Linked DNA regions of Homo sapiens: all the other regions are linked to region 1. Evidence: fine-mapped expression QTL. Tissue or cell type: cerebellar hemisphere. Region 1 holds a variant in brackets; each other region holds the start of a gene. All regions are shown on one strand. Distances are between the middles of the regions.

Region 1 (8,367 bases):
AAGAACACATGGACACACGAAGGGGAACATCACATACCGGGGCCTGCTGTGGGGTGGGTGGAGAGGGGAGGGATAGCATTAGGAGATATACCTAATGCTGGATGACAGGTTGGTGGGTGCAGCACACCAGCATGGCACATGTGTGCATGTGTGACAGACATGTGCATTGTGGACATGTACCCTAGAACTTGAAGTATAATAATAATAAAATTTAAAAAAAAATTCTTAGATGTAAAGATGCCTCACCTGACTCCACTCAGGTTGGATCAGCATCTTGTTCCCTTTTCTCCCCTGAGACTTTCAAATAGGGCAGAGTAAGATGGAGGAGGTAACTCTTTGTCTCTGCTAATACCTAATCATATAATCTTATTTCAAAAATTGGCCAGTACAGTTGGATTGACTACAAAAAAAAATTAGGCCTTGTCCATTTATCCAGAGGTTTCCTTCAAAACTTTTAAAAAATTTTATCACCTAAAATGGATTTTAAATTATCAGAATTTAGATGTAGCAATTAAGTAAATCTTAAAGGAGGTGTAGAATTCCTTTAAGAAGTTATTGTCTGCTTCCCATTGCAGCAATGTCTGCAATACTACTTTTTTTAATGAGCCCAGAAACAATTCTCTGCAACTGTAAAAATTATGCCAGAATGCAAGTTTTTGGTTAGTGCCATAGTTTCGTTTTGTTATTGAAAATGGGATAAGTCATGATTTATTCCCTCCCTTCTATGGAAGGGTAAAAAATGTTAATGGTAAGAAAGTTATTACATTTTCTATTTCAAGATTGATTTAATAAGAAATTTACCTACCAGATTTATGATGTTTTATTTTTAGCTACAAGAAATAAAAGCTTAAAAATAACAGAAATAAAAGCCTTAGTTTTATATATGTAATTTTTATAATATATACACAAACTTGGAAATAACTTCTGTCAGTATCCCTTATTATTGTCACATGATTTTGAACTTCTGGACCAATATAATTCAGCTGAAAGAACCAAGAAAATTAATATGCACCTGTACTCTCAAATTAGTCTCTTTAGAAGGAAGTGAAGAGAGACTCTTGAAAGATAAATCACAGTGTTACTACATCTTATTGAAAATTTCTATTTATCTCTATAGATGTTCCACATAAAGAAATCTTAAATAATTAAACATAATATAATTGATAAAACTGACATGTTAGTCTGGAGATGTTTGTCACCTATAGACAAAATAGACTCCTAAATATTAATATAAAAGTTATTGTTGTGTTTAGATGAACATAACCATAACCAAATAATTTTATTTGATATTTGGTGGTTCTAGTTACTTAAAATAATAAAAAGCTACATAAGCAAGAACCCTCTTAGAAAGTTGTAAGCATTAGTATAGACTTATATTTATACATGTTTTCTGTACATAAGTTCATTTAATTAATTGATGTAGGTAACTTTATGCTTCACTAAGCATTAATTATACATCATTGTACCTGTAATCCCAGCACTTTGGGGAGGCCGAGGTGGGCAGATCATGAGGTCAGGACTATCAAGAGGCCAGGATTGAGACCATCCTGACCAACATGGTGAAACCCCGTCTCTACTAAAAATACAAAAATTAGCTGGCGTGGTGGCATGAGTCTGTAATCCCAGCTACTTGGGAGGCTGAGGCAGGAGAATCCCTTAAACCAGGGAGTTGGAGGTTGCAGTGAGCCGAGATCATGCCACTGCACTCCAGCCTGGTGACAGAGCAAGACTCTGTCTCAAAAAAAAAAAAAAAATCATTTTGTATGGCCAGTAAAGACAAGTGTAATTGTGTAATTTAATATTTTCTTTTTAATTTTAGCATGGCTTTAAATTTTGAAATTAATGATTCCTGACTTGCATAATATATATTTAGTAGCTATCCTACTTTCACGTTAATATGCTAATCAAATCAAACCAGGAGTATAAGATAAACTATTACATTTGAGTTTAATGTAGCCTACAAGCAACATTTAGCCTATACAACTTATGCATTGACGTGGCTTATTGTTGACCATCATTATTATCTTTCCCTTCACTTATTAGGAACATATGTTTACTAGTTCCTGTTTGGCAGCTAAAATTTTTCATGTGCCCTAAGAACTTGGTATACAGTGCACAATACTTAACAATAGATTAGAATAAACTAGAGTAATATTTTTAGCTTTAGGCTGTGTAAACAGGGTCATATGCCATTTGGATGAGAGTTGAACATACTAAAAAATTTCATTGTTTCATTTAACCCAGAAATACTTTAAAGTATAAATTAGTTCAATTTTTGTAGCATTTCATTTTATGCTATTTAAACATTATGCATTCAGTGGAAAGAATGCTTAATCAGATAATTGGCTTTATAATAAAACACTATACTGATGTATACATATAATGTTTTAGTTGATGGATGGGTTTTTTAATATATTATTTGTTATATATATGTGTGTACTATTTTCCCATCAAATTAAAGCAATCTGCTTATATGGTAGCTAGTTCAATTTTGGTAAGTTTCCACTTTGTATTTGTGCACCAAAATAAATCATAGTTTGCTTTAAGAAAAAAATAGTTTATAAGTACACTTTAAACATGTTTAAATGCAAACCATGAAGTTTCTATGAACCCTTTTGTTACTACTAAAGCCATATGTTTAGCCTTTAGCTATGCCTTTTTTGCCACATTTCTGAATGTAAGATAAACGTGTATTTTGCAGAACTTTATTAAAATGATTACCTGAGAATAAATTTTGTAAATTTTCTTAAGTTAAATTTTCTGTGATTTATGTCCAGCAGTCAGTATTTAGGTTGAAATTAAATGCCATTTCAACACAACAAATTCCCAAATTAAGTTACCTCTATCAAAAGGCCAGTTTTTTTAATAAACATCAGAAGTTTCCTTATAAAAGGGCACATCTATTCACTGGATTGGTTACCTTTAGGAAGGGAAGCTCAAAGAGTGTTTGACTGAGTAATAAGAATATTTCTGACAATGGGACTTGGCATGGATAACTGTTAAACCATTGATCTCCTTCAGTTCTCTATCATTTCTAAGTGTTTGCTCCCTGTGGATCTATACAGTGGGATAGCAGAGAGTCATAGAAGTATTTTTAAGCACTTGAATTTCATAGTGTATGCTTCATGGACAGAATAAAATGTATTCCTCCAGCTGTTCAAGAATGAGGGCAAGGGGGAGATAAAAAGAGAAATGAAGGCAAGACAGACTTAGATCTCAATAAATGTTGCAAACTTAGTGTACTTTTACCTCTAAATCCTTTTCCTTACCTCCCACATTTAATTCCATCAAAAAGTCCTTATATTTTCTCCTTGCTTCTAACCCATCATATCCCAGCCACCAAAGGTTTAGGATTCCACATAATGTCATGAATTGACATACACATACACACAAATCCAAGCTGAGCCTTTGGTGCTGTGAAAGAGAATTTAAACATTTTAAAATGTAAAACTAAACATATTATCTGAGGTATGGCTAGAAATAAAAACAATAAAAAAGTGCAGTGAATAGGAAAAATGTAAAAGATTTCCATATTACAAATGAGCTATAAACACATTTATAATTCATAAACAGCATAAAATGATTGCTTATGTCATATTAATTAAAATAATAAAAGTAAGAAAATATGCTCAATGCAGAGGTACTTTTAAGAAAACAAACAAAAAAAAACAAAAGTTAACAAAATATTTTATCTGCATCAAAATATTCTTTGGAAACCAAAAATAAAAATGTATCATGTATGTTCTTTCAGGTTAATCTGTAAAAGTCAGAAAAATACGTAGTCCCTGTTATTTAACTTTCCGAAAATACAAAGTTCTAAATATCCCTCAAGCATAAAGCAAAAGGCTTTATGTCTTGCTGAACTGAAGGAGTGTGCTCCCTGTATTAGTACAAAGAATTCCAGTTTCCTTCCTATCAAAAAACATTTTGTTTCAGTCACATTGAAACAAATGACGTGACTTCAATACAGTGTAAGTATAGCTGAAGCTGTGTCCAGTAATTTTTCTTCAGAACTCTGAAGACACCTATAGAAACTCCTGAGGGGAAAGAATGGTTTCTCACAAGGCCAAGAGGAATATTATCCAAAGCGAAACTTGAGTCTGTATTTCACTGAGTTGGTATTTTTCCGAGGTGCAGAAAGGGGAATCTTTGGCTTGATAGGGCTAGGTGGCTTTTTCTTTTCAGGAACAGTAACCGTGAAAGAAAGTTCTGGCTGCT[C/GCTC]CGACTGCTTGAATCTTGGCAGAAAATGGGTAGAGATATGCTGGGGTTTAACCCGGGGGCTGCACCCTCGTTTGGCTTTTCCTCTTTTATTCAGGGCCACATACCACTCCCGCCCTGTTTTTTCAGTTCTATGTATTGCTGAGGCATAGGTATTATAGCTATTTTCTTGAAAACGCTCCCTGAACTTGCAGTCATCTGTGAACTTGGCCTAAGGAGGAGAAAAAAAGAGGAAATTTAAGTTGTGGCGATCTTTTCAGCATGTAATAAAACATAAGGTATTGTAGAAAAAAAAACAATAATTTTGTTGATCTCTGTTCCTCCTACTCAATTCCTTTTTATAAAGACATGTTTGCTTATTTTAAAGTTGCTTTAAAATTACTATTTTTCTTTCTATATTTCTACTTCATTTATCTTTGTAACACATTTCTGTTCCCTACTTACTTGGTGACATAATATCGATGACTATAAAAGTAACCAGAACTCTTGATACATTTAAACCCTGTTACTATTGTTTAAATACTTTGAAATGTATAGTTACAAATCTTTTTACATACTGTTTTTCCTCCTAACTCACTAAGAAAATAAATGGAACTATATTACTAAGAAATGATTGCCTGGTAAAATATAAATTCCTGTTCACAGAAATGAGGTCAAAATTATTCCTTTGAAACAAGCTTGCATTTTTTCAATGTTATCAGTGTGATTGAGGCTGCTGAGAGAGAAGTAGCATATGGCCCCCATTAATATTGCACGTGTTAGAGTTCTTTAGAAAAAAATAACGTATCTTTACTCAGGCATTACAGGAAAGTATATCTAACTCCAAGAAGAAAAAAGTCACTCGAGTTACTAACTACACTTTGGCCAGATCTTACACACACACAAAATATCTGCCCTTGAAATGCTTACAGAATAGTGGAAAAGCAGACAAGTAGACATCCGTCATGGTGCAGCTTGATAAATGGAATTATGACAGCGGTATGCAGAGGGTACAATGACAGCATAGAGGAAGGGCATCTAAGAGGGTGGAGGTGGCCAAGAAGAGGGCAGAAAAGTCTTCCTATAAAAGGTGACATTTGAGCTGAGTCTTCAAGTACAACTAGGAATGTTCTCTAACTAGCATTAGAGAGGAAGGCAAAATAAGAAAGGATTTTCAGGGAGAAGGAACAGGGTGTTGAAAGGTCAACATGACACTTTCAAATACCTGTAAGTAGTTCAGCGTGACCTCTACCTAGGATGCATGTGGGAAGTAAGGAGATGAGCCAGACAATGTAGGTCAGCACCAGCTCTGAAAGAGCTTAGTTTGCCATGTAGTAAAATTTGAAGGAATATGTGGGAGAATGGGGGAAGAGTGTGAACTTGGAGTCAGACATGCAATCAAAAACCAGTTCTGCCAATTAAGCTCTTAGCCTTAGCCTCCTTATCCATAACACTTACAACAATAGGGCTGTTATGAGAATCCAAAGGAGGATTCTGTAGCTTTCATCAAACTTGAAAGAGCCCATAACCCCCAAAGAATTAAGAATTCCTGTACTAGTTAAGACTACCAGGTTTCATAATTTCAAGGAGTACTATTTACACAGAATTCCCGTGTTTGAGAATACCAAATATTTTGTCCCCTATATATAAAAACACTAAAAGCTACATACTTCTATATCAAACCAAGAAGTTTTATACGGGAATAAAATGGCCTTTTTTTCCTTGTTTTTTCTAATAATGCCAAACTTTTCTTTGAAATACTGATCATAACACAGAAATCTAAAAATCTGAATATTGCAAGGCAATCTACATAGATCCACTGTTGAAGTCCACATGGAGTTTCTGAGCAGTGCAGGTTACTGACAGTAGTAGAAGCCAACCAATATCAGAGCATTTCCAACAGCACATTCACTTTATGTACAATAGTTTACTGGAGTTACTTATATTTAAGTGTAGTTCAATCAACAAAGTTCCATTGGCAGGTTATGAAGCCATATATGTAGATCTTCCACAAGTCTACTGGTGAATCTCTGGATATGATCTCGAGCAGGCTGAAGGCAAGTATTTTTTGTTTGTTTCTTTGTTGTTGTTGTTGTTGTTGTTTTGTTATTGTTGTTGTTTTTGAGACAGGTTCTTGCTCTGTTGGCCAGGCTGGAGTGCAGTGGCATTATCTTGGCTCACTGCAACCTCCATCTCCCAGGCTCAAGCAATTCTCCTGCTTCAGCCTCCTGAGTAGCTGGGATTACAGGTGTGTGCCACCATGCCCAGCTAATTTTTGTATTTTTAGTAGAGACGGGGTTTCACCATATTGGCCAGGCTTGTCTCGAATTCCTGACCTCAGATAATCTGCCTGCCTCGGCCTCCCAAAGTGCTGGGATTCAGGTGTGAGCCACCGCACCCGGCCGAAGGCAGGTATTATAAACAATCACCACCTATGTATGGCATCCCTTTCACCCTGTCTACGATACACCTTGCCAGCCTGCATTTAGGCCCGGACTGCTATGCTGACATCACTTTCGAAGACCACACATTGACTATTCCTATTTTTTATTAGAAAGACTTGCTTACAAATTCATTGTAGATTTGTCTACAGCTGCTTAGCTCTTAAAATGGTTTTCCCATTTAATTAGATAATCCCAACATTTTATTTCAAAATAAAAGCTATAGACATCTAGAATGTTTCTGGCTCTATAAACAGATCACAAGAATTTTACAAAGGTGTGAAACATTTCATTAAAAAGAGTATCAGGTATATTTATCTTGTCTCGGGTTTTTTTTTTCTTAAAATGCAGTTGAATGACATTTTTGAAAATGTGTAATACATTATGCCTTGATCTGACTTCCAGCTCTGTTTCACAAAAACAGCGGTGATTGCTTTACTCAATTTTGACAGAGTTAGGTTTTTACAATGTACTACATTATTTAATATTTTCCCCCAACAGTGCCCAAGAAAATAAAGAAAGAACATGTCATTTTTAACTAATGTAGATGACAGGCACACACACACTCATGCACAGGTGCATGTGCAGACACACACCACAGCATTTCTTTTTTTAAAACAGGAATCTATATCATTTCCATTTTAGGATCTTTCATATGAGTGAAACCCACCTGCCCCACCCCCTACAATTGTTTCATCTAAAATCTTTCTCTTTTCCTCCTCTTTTCCTCGAGATTCATATTCTAAAGTTCTTTCTTAAGAGGAGCCCTTTATGGAGATGGCTATTTGGACTTCAGATTTTTCAAAGGTCACCTAACTGTTACCCAGGGTAGAAGTGTGTAGAGTTCTAAGGATCTACACAGTACACACAGCCCCTCAGCCATCCAAATCCTACATTCTACATTAATACGGGAGTAAACGCAGTTAGACTGTTTTGGCTTTCTTAATTAACTTTTAATTTAATGTTTTGTCTGAAAAATTATTCCAGCTGTGATGGAACACAGAATCATTTGAAACAAACATTTCAGTGAATTTACTCATCTTGAAGGATTGACTATTCCTGTTAGTATTCCCGGTCTGGCTCAGACAAGATGGTGACCCTAAGCAGTATATCTCTATACATAATGTTGTGCATGGACCATCTTTATAGCAAAGAGTCATAGGTCTTAGCTAGAGGTACTAAAATACATACATTTACCATTAGAAAATTTTGGACAATAAATTTTCCAGGCTGATTTTTATTTTTTAAATCTTTTTTTTAAATTATAAGTCTTCTAATAAAATATACACTTTTAAAATGATAGAACTCCATTATTTTTCTAGAAAAAAAACCCCTGAAATTAACAGACTTTTTCTATAGTTAAAGAGTATGAAGTAGAGAGATGAATCAAATTTCAGATAAGTTGCTGAAATCAAGACTCCTTCATCTAATTGCCTTACCACCATCAGCCACTACAATGAAAGCAATTGTTTAAATATTTGTTTAAAAAGTTTCATATTCATTTTTCACTAATTTATTCCACAGATATCACATGCCAGGCACTGTGCTAGGTGCCACTTTTACAGTGGAAAACAGTATTAACATGGTCCTGCCCATGTTTTTGTTGACTTAAATTACATTAAAATCTCTTTAATTTCTCCTTGATCTGGCAAGAATAATAACAGGTTACATTCAACAAACCATAATTGCAAAATTAAAATGAAATGTTTAAAATCAGCGTTTTTTGTACTTT
Region 2 (8,367 bases), 49 kb before region 1:
TAAGCAAGCATTATGTAAAAAGTTGTGTGGTTATTAGATTCATACACTATTTGTGTACTTACTGTGATCTGAGATGTTAAATAATTATATTGTGGTCAGGGTAATGGCAGCAAATTGTTGGCAAACTCACGACCAAAAAGAATAAAAGCACTATTTACAAAGATACGGGCAAAATTAATGGAAACCAACATGGGATCGTGAAGCATCCTTGGGTTAGCAACAGTGGGAAGCCATTAACACCATTTGGCATAAAAGAAGATAAGGGAGGAAGCAATTCCTAGAGCAGGGAGTGCTGCCAGACCCTGGAGAGAGTGCTATAGCTAATGGAATGAGAAGATGGCCAAACCTAAGGAAGGTAGCTGCTTCTAAACCACAGACAGTAGGAAGATGGCAGGGAATAAATTATCTAACCACTTCCTTCCAGCCCCCTGCACTCCAGTTGGTACCTCCTATTGGCTGAAACCAACCCAAAGCCAAAAGCTCCTGATTAATGACTGTGAAGGTCATTGTCCAGGGGCACAGAATGGATCTGGCACAGATTATATGATTATTTGTATGTCAATCATTGGTACTAACTTTTTATGCAGATTAACTGAAAACTTTTGGGAGCAGAATATACTACACAATACAAGAGTACCTGGAAGATAGTAAATGTTTGTAAAATGCTTGCTGAATAAATAAAACTTAGACCGGACTGTAAGCATTATATACTTAGGTTTCTGAGGTCAAGTCTAGAATAGATTCTTACTTAAACTCTTAGCAGTGTAGGCAATATCCACTACATCAGGCGCTTGGTGAAGGATTATCGACTAAAAAGGTGGCTGGATAAATACATGGGTGTACAGATAATCAGATGAAAGTATAGATAACTCATAACATTTTATATACTTTAGGAAACTTGAATAATCTAGTCCAACTGTTTCATTTTGTAGGTAAAAAATGGAATTTCAAGTTGATTAAAAACACAATATTGCAGAGTTAGAACCAAAAAAAAATCTTGTGACTCTAGCCTCTTCTAACTAAACATGCTACCTCTAATTTACAGTTTACAATTTGTTTCATTCAAATAAATTCAAGAGATCTCTTGTATAACATTGTGACTACAGTTAATAACAATATATTATGTTCTTTTAAAATGTCAAGAAAATAGATTTTTAAGTGTTCTCACCACAAAAAAATGATAATTATGTGAGGTAATACATATGTTAACTTGATTTAGCCATTCCACAATATATATAATTTAAAACATCATGTTGTATATGATAAATATCGACAATTTTGTTAGTTAAAATAAAATGTTTTAAAAGTTGTTCCATTCAAATCAAAGTCAGTTACTGATGATGATGATGTGTGTGAGAGAGAGAGAGAGGAAAAGCACAAGTATCAGCTCACTTAGCATGATCCATGATTTGTGAAACATGCTTGCCATACTACTGAAAGAATGCTGAGGAGTCTACTTGTTTCTGTGTGACCTAAGTGCACAATGAACTTACATCCACAGAAAGTATTTGAGAATGTAGATCTCTAGAAATAATAGCACTTTAAAAGTTGTCACTAATCAATCCAAATATATACATATATATGTAAACATATATATACCTGTCTAATTATCATTATTCAACTAAATCTTCATCTTACTTTTTATGAAAGTACAACAAAAATAAGCTTAATCAATGCCAAATATAAAAGTAAATTTCTTTGTCATTTCCCCAAATATAATTACCACCTTCCATTTTGGAAACCTTTAATGAATTCTGATTGATGGGCTGGGTGTGGTGGCTCACACCTGTAATTCCAGCACTTTGGGAGGCTGAGGCCGGTGGATCACTTGAGGTCAGGAGTTCGAGACCAGCCTGGCCAACATGGTGAAACCCTGTCTCTGCTAAAAATACAAAAATTAGCTGGGTATGGTGGTGCAGACCTGTAATCCCAGAAACTTGGGAGGCTGAGGCAAGAGAATCACTTGAACCTGGGGAGCGGAGGTTGCAGTGAGCCGAGATGGGGCCACTGCACTCTGGCCTGGGCCACAGAGTGAAACTCTATCTCAAAAAAAAAAAAAAAAATTCTGATTGATGAAACACAAATTATTAATTTCACATCTGTAATTAATATTAATGTTTTAGGTCCATACTCACATGAAGAACTGTGCCTTAAAAAATATTAAAACCTTTCTTAATAATACTAGGTTTAAATTTGCCAATCTTCCACATATGCTACAAAGATGATTTTAGTCTATCAAGATGTTTATAGCGTATATTTCATTTTTTGTTTATTTAAACATTCAAAAATTTAGATGTAAACATTGTTTAGCAGCATTACTTTTTCAGTGTCTTGGATGCAAGGCATAAACTGACTTTTATGACTTTAAATATATTATCTGTATAATGTTTTAAAATTTTGCTTTTGAAGCCAGGAGCTATATTGGAAATACCACCTACATTTATTTTTTAAATGTACTGAAGAATAACACTTTTGAAACCTGTAATCCATATTTAAGTGAAATGCCTCTGTAACCAATCTTTGAAGTCCAAAAGTGTCAATCCACTAAAATGCAGTTACCTTGTTGCAGTTCAGAAGTGTGGGGAGCTGGTGGCAGGATGCAAATCCTTCCCAGACTGATGTGGCTTTTCACCACATAGTGGCGCCTGTTCTCTCTGGCCTAAATAGGGATAAGGCATTTCTGGGTCCTGTGGAGAGCACGGCCGACTCTCCAGGTGAGTGTCCATTCAGTGGGCCTATCCGGGAAGTTTGGCTAGGAATATACTGGGACTTTAGGAGCCATCGTCCGCCTCCCAGCTTCCTAGCACTGATGACTTGTTAATTCCTGCGCGTCCGGGTTCTCCCGTGGCACAGGACAAGAACTCCACTCTGTCCCCCACCACCCTGCAGCGGGGGTAGCTGGGGAGGGGATTGGCTGTTGGGCAGAGGAAAGCAACCCATTAGGTCCAGTTTCGCTCCTTTTTTGTGTGTATATTTTTACTATCAAAGTTAGTTGTGATCATCAACTCGATAAACTTGAATCAGGAATATGTCTGCACAACTACCTGTAATGCGTCTCTGTAATTAAAGTACTTTCAGAATCAATTAGTGTGAGGTGGAAGTTCATGAACCCAAACGCCCAATATAACACCAAATACACTAGGTTGGTGTAAAGATGCCATCTTCTGTTCTTTAATATACCAATTGGCAAAGCAGAGAGAAACAGGTGTCTGTCCTAGATCACAGCCGGAGACTTCTCAGCAGACCTCCTTCCTCACAGAGAGCGGCTTTGGAATGGGAGTGGGCTGGGAGGAGGCAGGGGAGGCCAAGAAGCACAAATTCATGGCTCCCCAGTGTGAGTGTGCCCGCGCGTTTCTGCGCTGGGTGACTCTAGGGGCCCAAGTTCTGTCCGGACCGGGGAGCGCGGGGCGGTAAGGACGCGGCAATTCACCTCGCCAGCGGCTTTAGTGTCGCGGTCCCGAAACCGCGGCGCCTGACAGCTGAGCTGTCCAGCGCCAGGGGGCGACCAGCCCACGAAGCGGGAACTCGAGGAGGGACCGAGGGACGCGCGGCGGCGGCTACTCTGCCGCGCTCCGCCCTTACCTCCAGGTAGTACAAGTCCACAGTAGTGATCTGCGAGTCCAGGAAATCTTCATAGGCGTTGAATTGAGTGACAATATTGTCCAAGGCCTTCAGCCCCTCTTCCTGATCCATTGCGGTATCCTCGGCCGAAGCGTCCCTAGCAACGGAAGCAGGAGGGCAGGGTCAGGAGGCTCCACCCACTTCGTTCCTGCCAATCAGTTGAAGCCGGTGTGAGCTTTGGACGTTAATCCCACCCCCCGGCGGTTTGTTGCAGTTTCTGTCTTCTGCCTCACTCCTGTGAAAACTTTCTGGAATTACCCACCCAAGTTCAGGTCGGATACCCATCCACCGACTCAGGCTTCAGTGAACTGTTGAGCAACCAGAGAGGTGCAAACTGCAATCCAAAGTTAAAAAGTATGACACTGCCTACATACTTAGACAAAATATTAGGAATTAGCTCCCAATTGCATTCTAAAACAATGTTATGCAAGACAAAAATACCGAGACATTTTGCAAAAAGACTGTCTCAAAAACAAGTATATCAAATGGTGTTGTGACAACGACAATAATAAAATAATGATTTTGTTAAATTATTTTTAAAGTTATAACAAAGGTAAATTATTGCTAATGTTTGTGTACAAGAAGCAATTTATGAAATTCCCAAAGGAAAGAAACTCAGTCAAAAAAATGTCTTTGCAGACCTTTTTTGGCACCAAGTTCTTGCACTTATTTTACTATTTTAGCACAGTGAAAAATTTTGCTGTGTTGAAGCTGCCCTTTTTAAAGAATAAAATATCTGTGAAATCTTATTAAATAAAGTCTTTCACTAAAGATTTTTTGTTTTCTTCAGAACAGTATTGTGTTTTTAAAATATGAATTTAAAGTAATCCAACACAACAGCTGGCAAAATATGTTCAGAACCAATCTTTGGATTTTAATATTTTACAAACCATCCTTGGGAATTAGCATATAATACAATGCTAAGCCTTTAATTGTTGCTCTGTAAGTACGTTTCTAATTCATCTTGAAGATTTTCACAGATTTGCTAACAAAATTTTAATGAAAACATCTGGTAAGATACTTCATTTCAGTTAGCTTTCCTAATTTAAAAAGTTCATCTTAAAAATTAGGATGTCATGACTTGCAAATTTTAAGTGATATAGACACAATATTTAGGATGCTACTAACTTGTTTTTTTGTTTGTTTAATGAATGTATTCTGACATGTTTTTAAAGATATTTTGGGCCTTATTTTTGAATGCAATTTAATTATTGAATTTGGGAAAACAAAAAGGAGATAAAACCTTGGACACTGGTAACCCATCAAAAGTAATAATAGGCCAGGTACAGTGACTCCCAGCACTTTGGGAGGCCGAGGTGGGTGGATCACGAGGTCAGGAGTTCAAGACCAGACTGGCCAACATGGTGAAATTCCGTCTCTACTAAAATTACAAAAATTAGCTAGGCATGATGGTGGGCGCCTGTAATCCCAGCTACTCAGGAAGCTGAGGCAGAAGAATCCTCCTATATCAAGATTTCATCACTTTTAAGAAACAGTAAAGCATCTAGAGAATGTTTGGGTTTATTAAACTAGAGCACTTTAATGAAAAGGACCTATATGTTAGTAAAATGTGAGGTCATGGTTTGGCTATATATTGTTCTATTATATCAATTGTGATTGTGCATTTTTTAGAGAAACCTCATTAAATTTGCCATTTGGTCAACATCTCTTTGATGAAGTAATCTCTACAGCATCTAAATTTAAACAATCATGAAATTATTTTCAGTCAATGAGTCTAGAAATGTCTTCTAACTCAAAACACTGAGGCTGATTTTCAGCAAATCAGCTTCTCTATTAATATCAAGAAAATTCATAAACTTATCCTTGTTCCTCACAGTAAGGCTAGAATTAATAGTGCGTATAACTCAATTGTCCTTTTCTAAACTTTCAATTTAACTTCAGAACCACTTTCAGACCTGTGCCTGAGAAATGAAAGGGTGGCAACAAAGAAATTAGTAAGTTTCGGCAAGCTTCTCTTTTCATTGCAAGGCTTTTGTTATGATCAAGAAATACTTTATTTTGGATAACATGCATTCCTACTTCAAGTCCAAGATTTTTAAAGACTGAAACCTGGAATTTAGCACCGATCCCAGAAATTCCATTCTTTGCAAAAGGACAAAGAAGGATTAGTATATTCATAATAAAACCCCAAGATGTAGGAAAGAGGAAACATATGTTATGTAAGAATAACAAAATATATGCCAGATTTAAGGTACTTACTTGGTGGAAGTATATTAAAAAGTTTCAAATTAAGCTCTACACTTTTATATTCCAAAATATTTGGCAATATACTATGATAGCTGACACAGTGAAAGGAAAACATACTTTGGTTTGTTGACATGACAGGAAGGGAATGTTTTGCTTATGTTAATAAGAACTTGAGGATCTATTAAGACGTTCTATTAATATGTTATCATATTGTAGGAAAAAAACATATACTTACTCTAATAGGACAAGAGATTTGTGTCTGGTGTTGCCTAGCTGCTTGTTAACTATGACTGCAGATGAGGGCTATTGCTTAATCATCAGCCAAGGAGAGCTTTTTTGCACTTAGAAACAATGGTGATACTAAATTTACTTGAGCTATTTCTCGTGATGAGATCGCTGGACTTCCTCACAGTCTCAGTTATTCTAGGATGCTGGAGTTCTGGTTCCACTGCTTCTCTGTCCTGGAGACACAATGTGTTCATGTGTCATAATCCGGGAGTTTGCTCCTGCCTTGTCATTGACAGTGTGAAAGGAAAATTTCAGAAGAGAGAAATACAAGTATAAGATGGAATTCCTCCCAGGACTGGGGTTGACAGATGTCTGCAGCTAATAAAGATTGAAAACTACTACTGTGCTATGGGATAGATGATGGGTATGATCACCACAACCACCACTTTGGAACAGAGAAAAACTTGGGCTCTCTGTGGCTCTATAAGGCATTACCAAAAACCTCACTGAAAATTCCCTCAAGCTTTTTGGCTACATGGAAATCAGCCTCTACCCTAAAACTCCACTCCCCCTGAGTGGGCAAACAATCAGAACATAGCACCTGTGAATAGACGGCCACCACAATAAATGTGGAGCTGCCAGTTGCAAGCAGGTGCCCAGCATTGCCCTACAATCTATGTTATCTTTTTCTTCAGTTCACTCTTACCTTCTACTATGGCTTTTTCCACTTTCTCCTCTCTCCTTAATCTTATATCATCCTTTCTCAAAGCAGATAAACTTAACTCTTATACCCAAAAGAAGTAAGTTATCACAATAGATTTCCCACAGTCAAATGCTGTATACAAGCTTATTCACATTCATATCAACGTTTTACTTCTTCCATTGTGTAAAGGAAGAGATTTACCTCCTTCCATACCTTCACTACACAGGTTCAATCTCCTTCTGTCTTCCCAGGGTTTCTCATTTTAATTATTCCCTCTCTTCTTTGTTGTTAATTTATCTCTTCTCTCCCTCCCCACCCCAGCTCCTTTCCCATTTTAAAAATAAGCAAATGATCCCAAAAATCACCCTCACCTCCACAGACAATGTTAGCTATAGGCTTTCCTGCCCTTTACAGCAAAACTTTTGGAAAGAGCTGTCTACAATCACTGTCTCCATTTCCTTACCTTCCACTTTCTGCCCAACATATTCCAGTCTGTTTTTACGCACTGCTCCACGATTTTCACCAAAGTCAATTATGACATCTTTGCCATTAGGCCCAATAGACATTTTTTCTGTCCTCAGACTGCTTGACATTTAGCAGCATTTGACCCTGTGACCACTCTCTTCTCTTCGAGATTCTCTTTTAGCTTCTGTCACATTACTTTGCACTGAGGTTGGTTAGTTGGTTGTTTGGTTGGTTCGTTGGTTTTCCATTAGCTGTTTCTTCTCAGTTCTCTTTGCTAGCCCCTTTTCTCCTTACCTAGCTTTTAAAAGATTGGAGAGTCTCAGGGTTCTCTCCTAGACCCTTTGCTGACTCTACACTTTTGTTACTTGGAGCTCTCACCCACACTTATTGCTTTACTTACTGCCTTACATGCATATGGTTCCTCTATCTATATAATTAACTAGGTCACTCTTCCAATCACATATCTAACTGCCTAGCAGATGCCACTGGATGTATAACATGTATAAATGAAAATTTTCCTCTTTTTGTGCCTCCTAATTTGTTCCTCCTCCAGTGTTCCCTCTTTCAACACACAGGTTCCTCTCCTCTCAGTTGTTCATGTGAGAAACATGGAAGACAGTCTTGAACCTTACTTCTCCGTCACCCCTGAAATGTAAGGCCTGTTATTTCCACCTCTCAATTACTTCTCTTGAAGGCTTAAATTTCTCTCCAACCTAATTGACATGGGTTCCTTGCCTAAGCCAAAGTCTGGTACCTAAACTCCAAGAATATAATCTTTTCTGGTTTCCCTATACTCTTCTGGCCTCTTTCCATTCCACTCTTCAAAATGTAGTTAGTGTTTGCTTAAAAACACGGATCTCACCAGGCCTCTTTTAAAAACCTTCTTTGGCTCCCCATTACCCTTAGGATAAAGTACAGTTTTGTTTTGTCTTTTTGACATGGCTTACAAGACATTCCACATCCTGACCTTCATCTGATACCCTCTACTGCACACGTTACATGTTCCAGCCACACCAGACTTTTTTCAGTTTTGAAAGGAGCCTCCACTTCTTTTGCTGCTGGGTCTCAAACATGCTGTTCCCTCTGCCTAGGACATTCTTTCACAGTACACACTTTTTCCATTTACCTATTAGCTCCCTATT
Region 3 (8,367 bases), 740 kb before region 1:
TTTCTAGGTGCCAGGCACTTCAAGGTAACTACATTTTAATAGTTTTTCTAGTCCCTTAGCATCAAACCTATCAAAAATGATGTTTTCCCACTGGTTCCATATATTTTGAAGGAATGGCTCCTATTGGGATGATCATTCAACACTTAGTTATATACTATCTTTGCCGAAGCCTTATATTTTAGCCTTATACTTCAGAAACATTTCAATATTATAATTACTTATCTTAAAAGTACTTTGGTCATAGGAGGAAAGAATCTCCTCTTCCTCATTGCAGGAAAATATTCACTTGTGGGGCTGGATTGCCTCAGTTATTTTTTTAAATCTATGAAGTATGTGAGATTTTTTAAAAGGTGATAAGTACTCACTAAAATGTGCTATTTTGGTGGGTGCATGTCATGAATAGTGAAAGTTTCCTAACAACATGTGTGCTTTAATTGTTTTTCCTAAAGAGATTATATTTGTCATTAAGAAAAGGAAGATTAAGTGACTATGGGAGTCATGAGAAAGTGATGATCCTAAAGTATCTTAAAAGATCAAGACAGAAGAAAAATTCATGTAAAATATTCTTCTTTATCATATAGTAGCCAGAGACAACTTAAACCAAAATCAAAATAAATGCTAATTTCATATCCTTCTGTCTTCCTTCACATGGTGTATTTTTATGAAGCTGACCTTCTCTGTCACTAATAGATTTTGTGAATTACCTTTTGCAAAGGGAAAGATAAAACCTATCTTTATGTAAACCCTTCCACATGACAAAAAAACTTACAAGCACTCCAAACTTACGGTTTTGGCACACCAACTACATAGCATTCAGGGAGGAGAAAAGGGTTTAGCAGAAAGTGTATTTAGGATGAATGCCACCCACCATCAAGTAATGGTTTAAGTAGAAAGTAATCAGAGGGAGACCACAGCAGCTAAATTTCAATCGAAGATATTCTAGGTTTAGAACAATAAATAATTTTAATCAGGTATGTACCAAGGCACAAACAGGACTCTAAAGCTATAACTCAGCCTGAATAAGCACTCAGAGGCTGCCGGATCAGCAGCTGCCCCATACACAGCACACCACCTGATCTTCCATTAAAATTTCTAACGTCTTCAGTACAGAGAAACCCATATGTTCTAAAACTTAAAAACTCTGGACTGGAAAACATATCTACTATATTAATTTAGACAGCATCTTTCACCTACAAGGGAACATATGTCACAAGGTGAAAGGGTGTTATGGAAATGCTGATATGGATGACGAGAGAGGGACACACATGAAAACCTTAGCACCTTCCTAGAGTCCTGCCTTATTAGAGCCAGAACTGCCTTATAATAGTCTTTTTAGTGTGTTAGTAACTAAACACTCTTGGAAGGGGCCCAACACGAACCACCTCACCAGGAGCCTCAATGAGGTAACATGACACTTAAGCTTCCACAAAAACCAGTGTCTACATTTGATGAATAAGTCATTAAGACAGTCTCTAGGATGCTAAAGGGATTACTTTTCTTATCAGGGCACACAGCCTTGTATATATGCATCAAGCTGCAACTCATCGTTTCAAGGGAATGTCTGGCCTCCATATCAGAGTTTATTATTTGATGCTATGAGACTACAGTGAGGCTGATAAGGCACACTCTGGAATACTGCAAGGAATGAGTTGAAGCCAAAAAGAATATGGTGCCTGAGTTGTTAAAATCTTTATCCATGGTTAACTTGGCCTAAAACAAATAAAAGCTATACAATACGTGAATGAAACAAATTCAAATTCTACCTCCAAACCATGTGGTTCATTCTATAAATGAAACTTGTTAATCCCAAACATATTGTTTTTTATCTTAGGGGCCTCAGCTACTCCCTAGCAATATAACCAAGAAAACAAATATCAAGATAAGAGTCATTTGAGTACCTTCATTTTTGCCACCTGCCTAGCTCACCCAACTTCCTTTCAATCCTTGCAACTCCCACATGAGTTACTCACTGAGTTATGCCCCTAGAGTTGCACTAAAGTAAACAGAGTATTCACTGGTGTAGTCAGCTGTCAGGACAGCCTCCTCCAATGGCTAGGATACTGTGGATAACACAGAGCAGGTTTCTTTTTCCTTACTGGTGGCGCTCTCCTCACAGATCATGCTCATGGTTTTAAGAAGAAAGTAAAATCTGGTTCAGTTCAGTCTCTAGCTAAAGACTTCTGTATTAGGAAGCATAATTCACATCTATTGTAAATGTCATCATGCCTGTAAGCTCTAGAATATATTTACACAGACAATGCAGGGCTTTCCTTGATGAATGCCTTAGTTTTCCCTTTTTCCAGGAGTCTTGCATATCAAAACTTTGGGAGATTTCTTTCTAGTGATTCTGACAGTATTGACTGAGGCATGGCCTCATTTTCTTGAAGATTCTTGGCTATTGTTCAACTGTTCACTGAAGACAGGCTTTGCAGTTACATTTCCCCTTATCATGAATGTAGTGAACAAAAAAGCCTGGTGAATCCTCAAAGCATAAAAACAGAGTTAGTGTCCAGGAAGCTTTCCCTCAAGCTGTTAACACAAGGGAGGGAGGCTGTTAGCATAAGTTATTCCCTTCACCACAGGGGCTAGGAGAAACCTTGTTAAGCCATGAATTTCAGTCCGAAGTGATCTGTGCTGAAAAATGGGATGAGCAGATTTTCTTGGGCAGATTCCAAGAGGTGTTTACATCCAGGGTTGCTCCCTCCCCTTGTCTCCCAGCTCCTCCCAGGATGGATGGTACAACCCCTGTTTACCCAGATGCGTTTTAATAATCGAAACACCCAAGCACCTGTTTTTTTTTTTTTTTTTTTTTTTTTTGCCACTAAGGAACTATCAAGTAAAGTGTCAAATATAGTACAGTAACACAAAGGGCGCGAATTAGGAGCGGGTGCAATATCTGGAGAAGCGACTGGGGAAGGAGAAAAGGAGAGGGGAAGGCGTCTTATTCAAGTATGATTTCTCTCGGGTCCTGGCATTGGCATAAAATGGCATCTGCCTCTTAGTAAACATGGCTAAAGCCCAGTCCAAAGGAATTTCCGCTGGCCGATTTAGGAATCAACAGAATAAGGTACCCTAGAGGTGCTCCAGTCACTCAGGGCAGGAGGCCTCACAGGCATGGGGTGTCGCCCCTTCCCTTTTTCCACGAAGCTCCTCCAGCCTACCCCTCCACTGCTCCGCGCCTTCATTCTATTTCCCCCTCTCACTTTGGATTTGAAAACTGGGCTTACAGGAGATGCAGCTGGCGACACGCGGGGTGTGACTGGACGGAGGAATCCAGAGGGCAGCTGAGGAGGGCGGAGAAAGGTCCCTAGGCAGCGCCACCAAGCAAGGGGCAGACAAGGAAGCTGTGGGGGGTCCCGGGAGAAAGCTGGGGCGGGACCGCGGGAAGGGAGTCTCACCTCGCGCACTCACCTGCTGCTGCCGCCCGAAAGCTGCGAACCGTGTTGCCTTCGCGCAGGAGCCGAGGGCGCCAGGGCTGCGAGCCTCCCTCCAGGGAGCCCGGTGTCCGGGCCGCCTGGACCGTGCTGTACCTGTCATAGAGCCGCAGCATGTGTTCAGAGACCTTGTCTTGCGGCTGCAGCTCGGAGTCCGGGCCACCACCTGCCGTGCGGTCACCTGGCACAGCTTTGCGGAGCTCCGGGAAAGGTGGCTTCGGTCTCTCTCCCTGCGCCAGGCTCACGCAGAAGCAGCCCAGCCACAGAAAGAGCAGCCTGCTCGCCCCAGCCATGGCTAGGTACCCGCGCGGCGCGTCGGCTCCCGGCGTCGCTGCGGGACACTCCGAAGGCGCAAGGAGCCGGCGGCGGAGCCGAGGGTTGAACTCCAAACCAGCTGGGGCGAGGGCGCACGGAGCCCGGGACGCGGCCGGGTGCAGCGAGATAGCGGCCAGCCCCACTTGCTGCGCTGACCCAGCGCAGCCTGACAGGTGGGCTCTTCCCCAGCAGCTGCGCGGACCTCACCCGCGCAGGGCGCTGCGGGCGCCGTCTCCACTCCAACGCTGAGAAAGAGCTGTAGGTCGCGGCGTGTGTGGCCCGGGTGTTTTCAAGATCTGTCTGTACCTTCCCTCCTCGCTTTATTTTTGGGAACACCCGGCCAAACTGGCCGCGCGAGGGACTAGGACTAGCTCTGTTTTGGGCGCCAGGTCGGAGCCGGGGCTGTGCGCAGCGGTCCGGAGGGCGCTCGATTGCCTTTTCCAGGGATTGGAGCAGCTGCGGCGCGGCTGGTCCGAGTTTTTTAGTGTACGTGTGTGTGTGTGTGCGCGCGCGCGCGCGCGTGTGTGCGTGTGTGTGTGTGTATGAGAGAGAGAGACTTAGTTCTTTCGCTCTCTAGCTGATCTGTAGAGTCCTCAGCCAATCTCTCCCACTCCCTCGTCCTCGCCCTCTTAGCTTGCACCAGGCTGGGATAGAAGCAAGGGAGGGGGGGAGTAACCAGAGAACTGGCAGCGGGAGGGAGAGAAGAGGAAGTAGGGGTGGGGATGGCTGGGGAGAGGAAGGGAAAAGGAGATTCAGGACTAAAGAAATGGTAGGAGGGACGGTTTTTTTGTTTTGTTTTGTTTTGTTTTTGTTTGTTTTTTTTTTTAATTCTCCAAGAACAGTGGCTGTGTGGTGGCTAGCAAGAGGGCAGAGGAAAACAGAACTTCTTCCTGGCTTTTCGGTCTTATGATTCCAAACAAAGTCACAACGTGAACACCATTCTCGCTTACTTTCCCGAGCCTCTTCTGACGGACACTGCGGGCCCCTGCACCTGCAGCCCGTCATCATAGCTTCCTGTCTTTCTGAGAGCATACCCATCATAACGCCCCTCTCTCCCGCATCATCTTCTCTCGAGGTGAGAAATATGTGCGAGTCAATATCATGTTAAAAACAAATAAGAAAACAAGCAAACACACCACAACCCCACCTACAGCTTCCCCCAAAGGTTTCCTTCCTACAGGTCCCCAAAAGGTTTCCCAGCAGGATGGTGCAGTGGTGGCTAAAAACAAGGGTGTGTGGAAGATCCCGGAGTCCGGAACAGAATGTAAGAGTCGCTAGCTTTGTCTTCCTAATTCTCTCTTGTCATGGCTGTACAATGGAGATTAAACTATGAGCAGCCTGGCGCAGTGGCTCAGGCCTGTAATCCCAGCACTTTGGAAGGCCAAAGCGGGTGGATCACGAAGTCAGGAGTTCGAGACCAGCCTTGCCAACATGGTGAAACCTCATCTCTACTAAAAATACAAAAATTAGCTGGGCGTGGTGGTGCGCACATGTAATCCCAGCTACTGGGAAGGCTGCGGCAAGAGAATGGCTTGAATCCAGGAGATGGAGGTTGCAGTGAGCCGAGATTGTGCCACTGCACTCCAGACTGGGTGACAGAGCAAACTTTGTCTCAAAACAAAAAACAAACAAACAAACAAAAAACAACTGTGAGCTAACATTTTTCTCCACACTTATGCTCTAGACATGCCTTGTTATTTATATTTCAAGTATATTACCAAATAATTTTCACAGCAAAACCCATTTTACAGATGAGGAAACTGAGGCAAAAGGATACATAGTAAGTGACAGAACTGAGATCCAAATTCAGGGAGTCTGATTTCTGGCCTCAGGCCAGATAACCACACTATTAATAGTGAAATTAGCATTTAAACTGAAGTTTCAGTGTGCAATCCATGTAAATGTTTAGTGCAGTTCTTGACCATATGCAGTAAAATCTTCAGTCAATGTCTATTGCATTTATCCCTCTTCCCCTCTGTAGGGCAATGGAGTTGATCGAAAAGAAGATAGGCTCCTGGAGTCACACCATGTCTCCAGATCTGAGTTTCTTCTTTGATGGTGAATAACAACACATTCCTTTTAGAGTTTTGTTTGGATGACATTAGAAAGCAGTGCTAAAGTGACTGGCGCACTCACTAGCCTTTAATAGGGGCTCAATCCCTTTCTATCCTAAATTTATCCCAAATCCAGACTACATTCTCCCCACTCAGTCACTTCTTAACCCACTGCGGTTTGGATTTTGCCCTTAGCCACCCCGGGAACTGTTCTGCAGATAATAACACATATTTCAAGAGTAGTTGTGAGGATTAAATGAGATCATGTGTTTGATCTTTGCTTGGCATAAAGAACATAATAGCTTTTGTGATTAATAATGAAGATCTAATTGCAAAATTCAATAGGCCCTGGAAACTCTCTCTTTGATTTTTTCCCTGTGAACTATTGGTTGTTTTTCCATTCCTTTCTGCCCTTTCTCAGTTCTGTCAGCTGCCTCCTCTTTCTAGGCCTGCCTCAAGCGTTCCTGACATCTTTACTCTGCCCTTGGAAAATGCCAAATCCAGAAGAAAATTCTTTTTCAGTTCTTCTGCTTTGGTGGTCACCTCTGGCCTTTAAATATATAGTTCTGGGTCCCCCTCAGCTCCAGTCCTCCTTGCCAAAGAAGTTCATCCTCTTCCCCTTTGAAACCATCTTTGAGACTTCCCTCCCTTTAGCTACAGTGCATATTTCTGTCACAACATTTGCCACTCTGTACTCCACATGATTCTTCATTCATAGATACTGAAGACTGACAGCATGTCTACAATGGCTCCCTTCCCTTTGCTGCACCTCCAATCTGTTATTTAAGCCATAAGCATAAAATAAGAGTGCCATCTCACAGGGTTGTAGTAAAGAATAATTGGATAGTCCATTTCAAGAGATTAGCAGAGTGCCTAGCACATAGCAAATGCTTAAAAAGAGTCGGCTGAGACCTAAGAGAATCGCTTGTCTGTTTTTGTCTAAGGCAGAGATCAAGGCATACCCATCTTTATATTTTAATGACCAGCCATGTCATTCAGAATAATCATAGTAACAGGGGATGATGAGCAAGTAGAATAATCCCTAACAGAGATTCCCAGCTGTAATTCCAGACTAGAACAGAATATGGATATGGGAGCCAGCAAACCAGAGAACACTAGTAGCAACCAAATTTTGGACTTATAATAACTCATTTGCAACTAACATACATCCAGGAAGAGGGAGCAATGGATGAAATGGATGAAGCCAGCAGCAGCATGTCCAGCAATGACAAATAAATGGCACCCCTCCCAGACTCTTGGAATGACTTCTTGGGAAATTGAATTGAAAGCAAATTAAATGGGAAAAAAACAATTCCCTCATCAGCACACCTGGAGATGCCATCTTGTGATATTCAAGACAGTAGCACAGTGTTTCTTTTATCAAAGGCTGCAGAATCCCAGCTCTGGATGGATTAAATTGTTTCAGAATGCTGGCATCTTGAGATGCCTTCACTCAAATGGTTTAAATCATAGGATTCATATTTCTGGCTGAGCATCTGGTTTCCTTGATGTATGGAGGATTTGCAGCTTTTCAGGAGGAACTGAATTGAACATATTGGTAGTATACGTGCCTTGTATTTGATCTCTCTGTTGTGTTGCATTAATTAAGAGTTGTTTTAATTTTTAAATAATAGGTCTTTCCTATTTTATGTTAGAGGTTGTGACTGTTATAGCCAACTACTGAATCAGAGGATACTTATCAATCTTTTTTCCCAAACACAAGGAGAGTTAAAGGAAAGCATTTCTAAAACAGAAAACAACAGCAGATTAGTGGATTAGTGGATTCTGTTGCATTAAACTCTACTTTTGACTATAAAAACCCTATGTGTGTATGTATGAATGTATGTGTATTATGCTTGTCTTTATTGATATTCTTGAGTAATATACATTTATTTTCTAAAAACTTCCCATCAACCATTATTATTGAATACTTATGTAAGACTATATTAGCAGTTGTGAAGTTTTGGTTCCTTCCTCTTTTTTATTACTCCCATCCTTGATTCATTCACTCAATACATATTTAGTATCTATTGTGTTCTTGACAATTTCATGTTGAGAATACAAAGATAAAATGAAATGCTTCCTGTCCCCTGAAAACTTAGTCTACTTGGGAGATAGGAATAACCACTTGAAAAACTTAAAGGTATTTTTTTTTCCCCTGGCTGAGTAAGGCAGAGAGTGCTGCATGGGAGAGATGGTAGTTGAACTGAGATTTAAAAGCAAAGTAGGTGGTTTTCCGGGGGTATTTTAGATAGGCTATTTCAGACAGAGAAAGAATATCATCTACACTTAGGTGGGAGAAGTCTTTCTTCTGGGGTCCTCTTCCAAATTCATACCAATCTTTCTCTCCATTATTTCTTTAGTTAACTCACTTGAGTTATATGCTTGTATTTAGTTACCAATAACTCCACAAGTATTTCTAACCTTAAGTCTCTACAGTATTTCAGCTCCCCCCGCCCCAGTTTTTATAAACTGTGTTTATCCTGTTGATATCATAAATTCAGTGCATCTAAAATGAAACTGGTCATCCATCTTAATTATATTCTTGGTTTCCAAACCTTTAT

Which allele goes with the higher level. Positions count from the first base shown, and alleles are read on the strand shown. Sizes are in standard deviations (SD) of each study's normalised expression.
With allele C in place of GCTC in region 1, the expression in cerebellar hemisphere of the gene that starts at base 3,732 in region 2 is lower (large effect, 1.4 SD a copy in GTEx).
For the expression in cerebellar hemisphere of the gene that starts at base 4,304 in region 3, C is the low allele of the variant in region 1 and GCTC is the other (large effect, 1.6 SD a copy in GTEx).

The links. PIP is the estimated chance that this variant, and not a neighbour inherited with it, causes the effect.
Region 2: CFAP299 starts here. The variant in region 1 is fine-mapped to the expression of CFAP299 in cerebellar hemisphere (GTEx, PIP above 0.99). The same link has a PIP of 0.9 or more in cerebellum and fibroblasts.
Region 3: BMP3 starts here. The variant in region 1 is fine-mapped to the expression of BMP3 in cerebellar hemisphere (GTEx, PIP above 0.99). The same link has a PIP of 0.9 or more in cerebellum.

The regions. Positions count from the first base shown.
Region 1 is chr4:80,282,384-80,290,750 of GRCh38, reverse strand. FGF5 (fibroblast growth factor 5) reads right to left here. Exons shown (of 3, transcript NM_004464.4): 3 at 1-4,426. The coding sequence ends at 4,079. Among named protein-coding and RNA genes, the nearest start is that of FGF5, 20 kb to the right of the region's middle. The variant C/GCTC (reference allele first, on the strand shown) is at 4,219.
Region 2 is chr4:80,331,095-80,339,461 of GRCh38, reverse strand. CFAP299 (cilia and flagella associated protein 299) reads right to left here and starts at 3,732. Exons shown (of 6, transcript NM_152770.3): 1 at 3,583-3,732. The coding sequence starts at 3,693. RefSeq lists an enhancer at 3,591-3,740.
Region 3 is chr4:81,026,645-81,035,011 of GRCh38, reverse strand. BMP3 (bone morphogenetic protein 3) reads right to left here and starts at 4,304. Exons shown (of 3, transcript NM_001201.5): 1 at 3,412-4,304. The coding sequence starts at 3,727.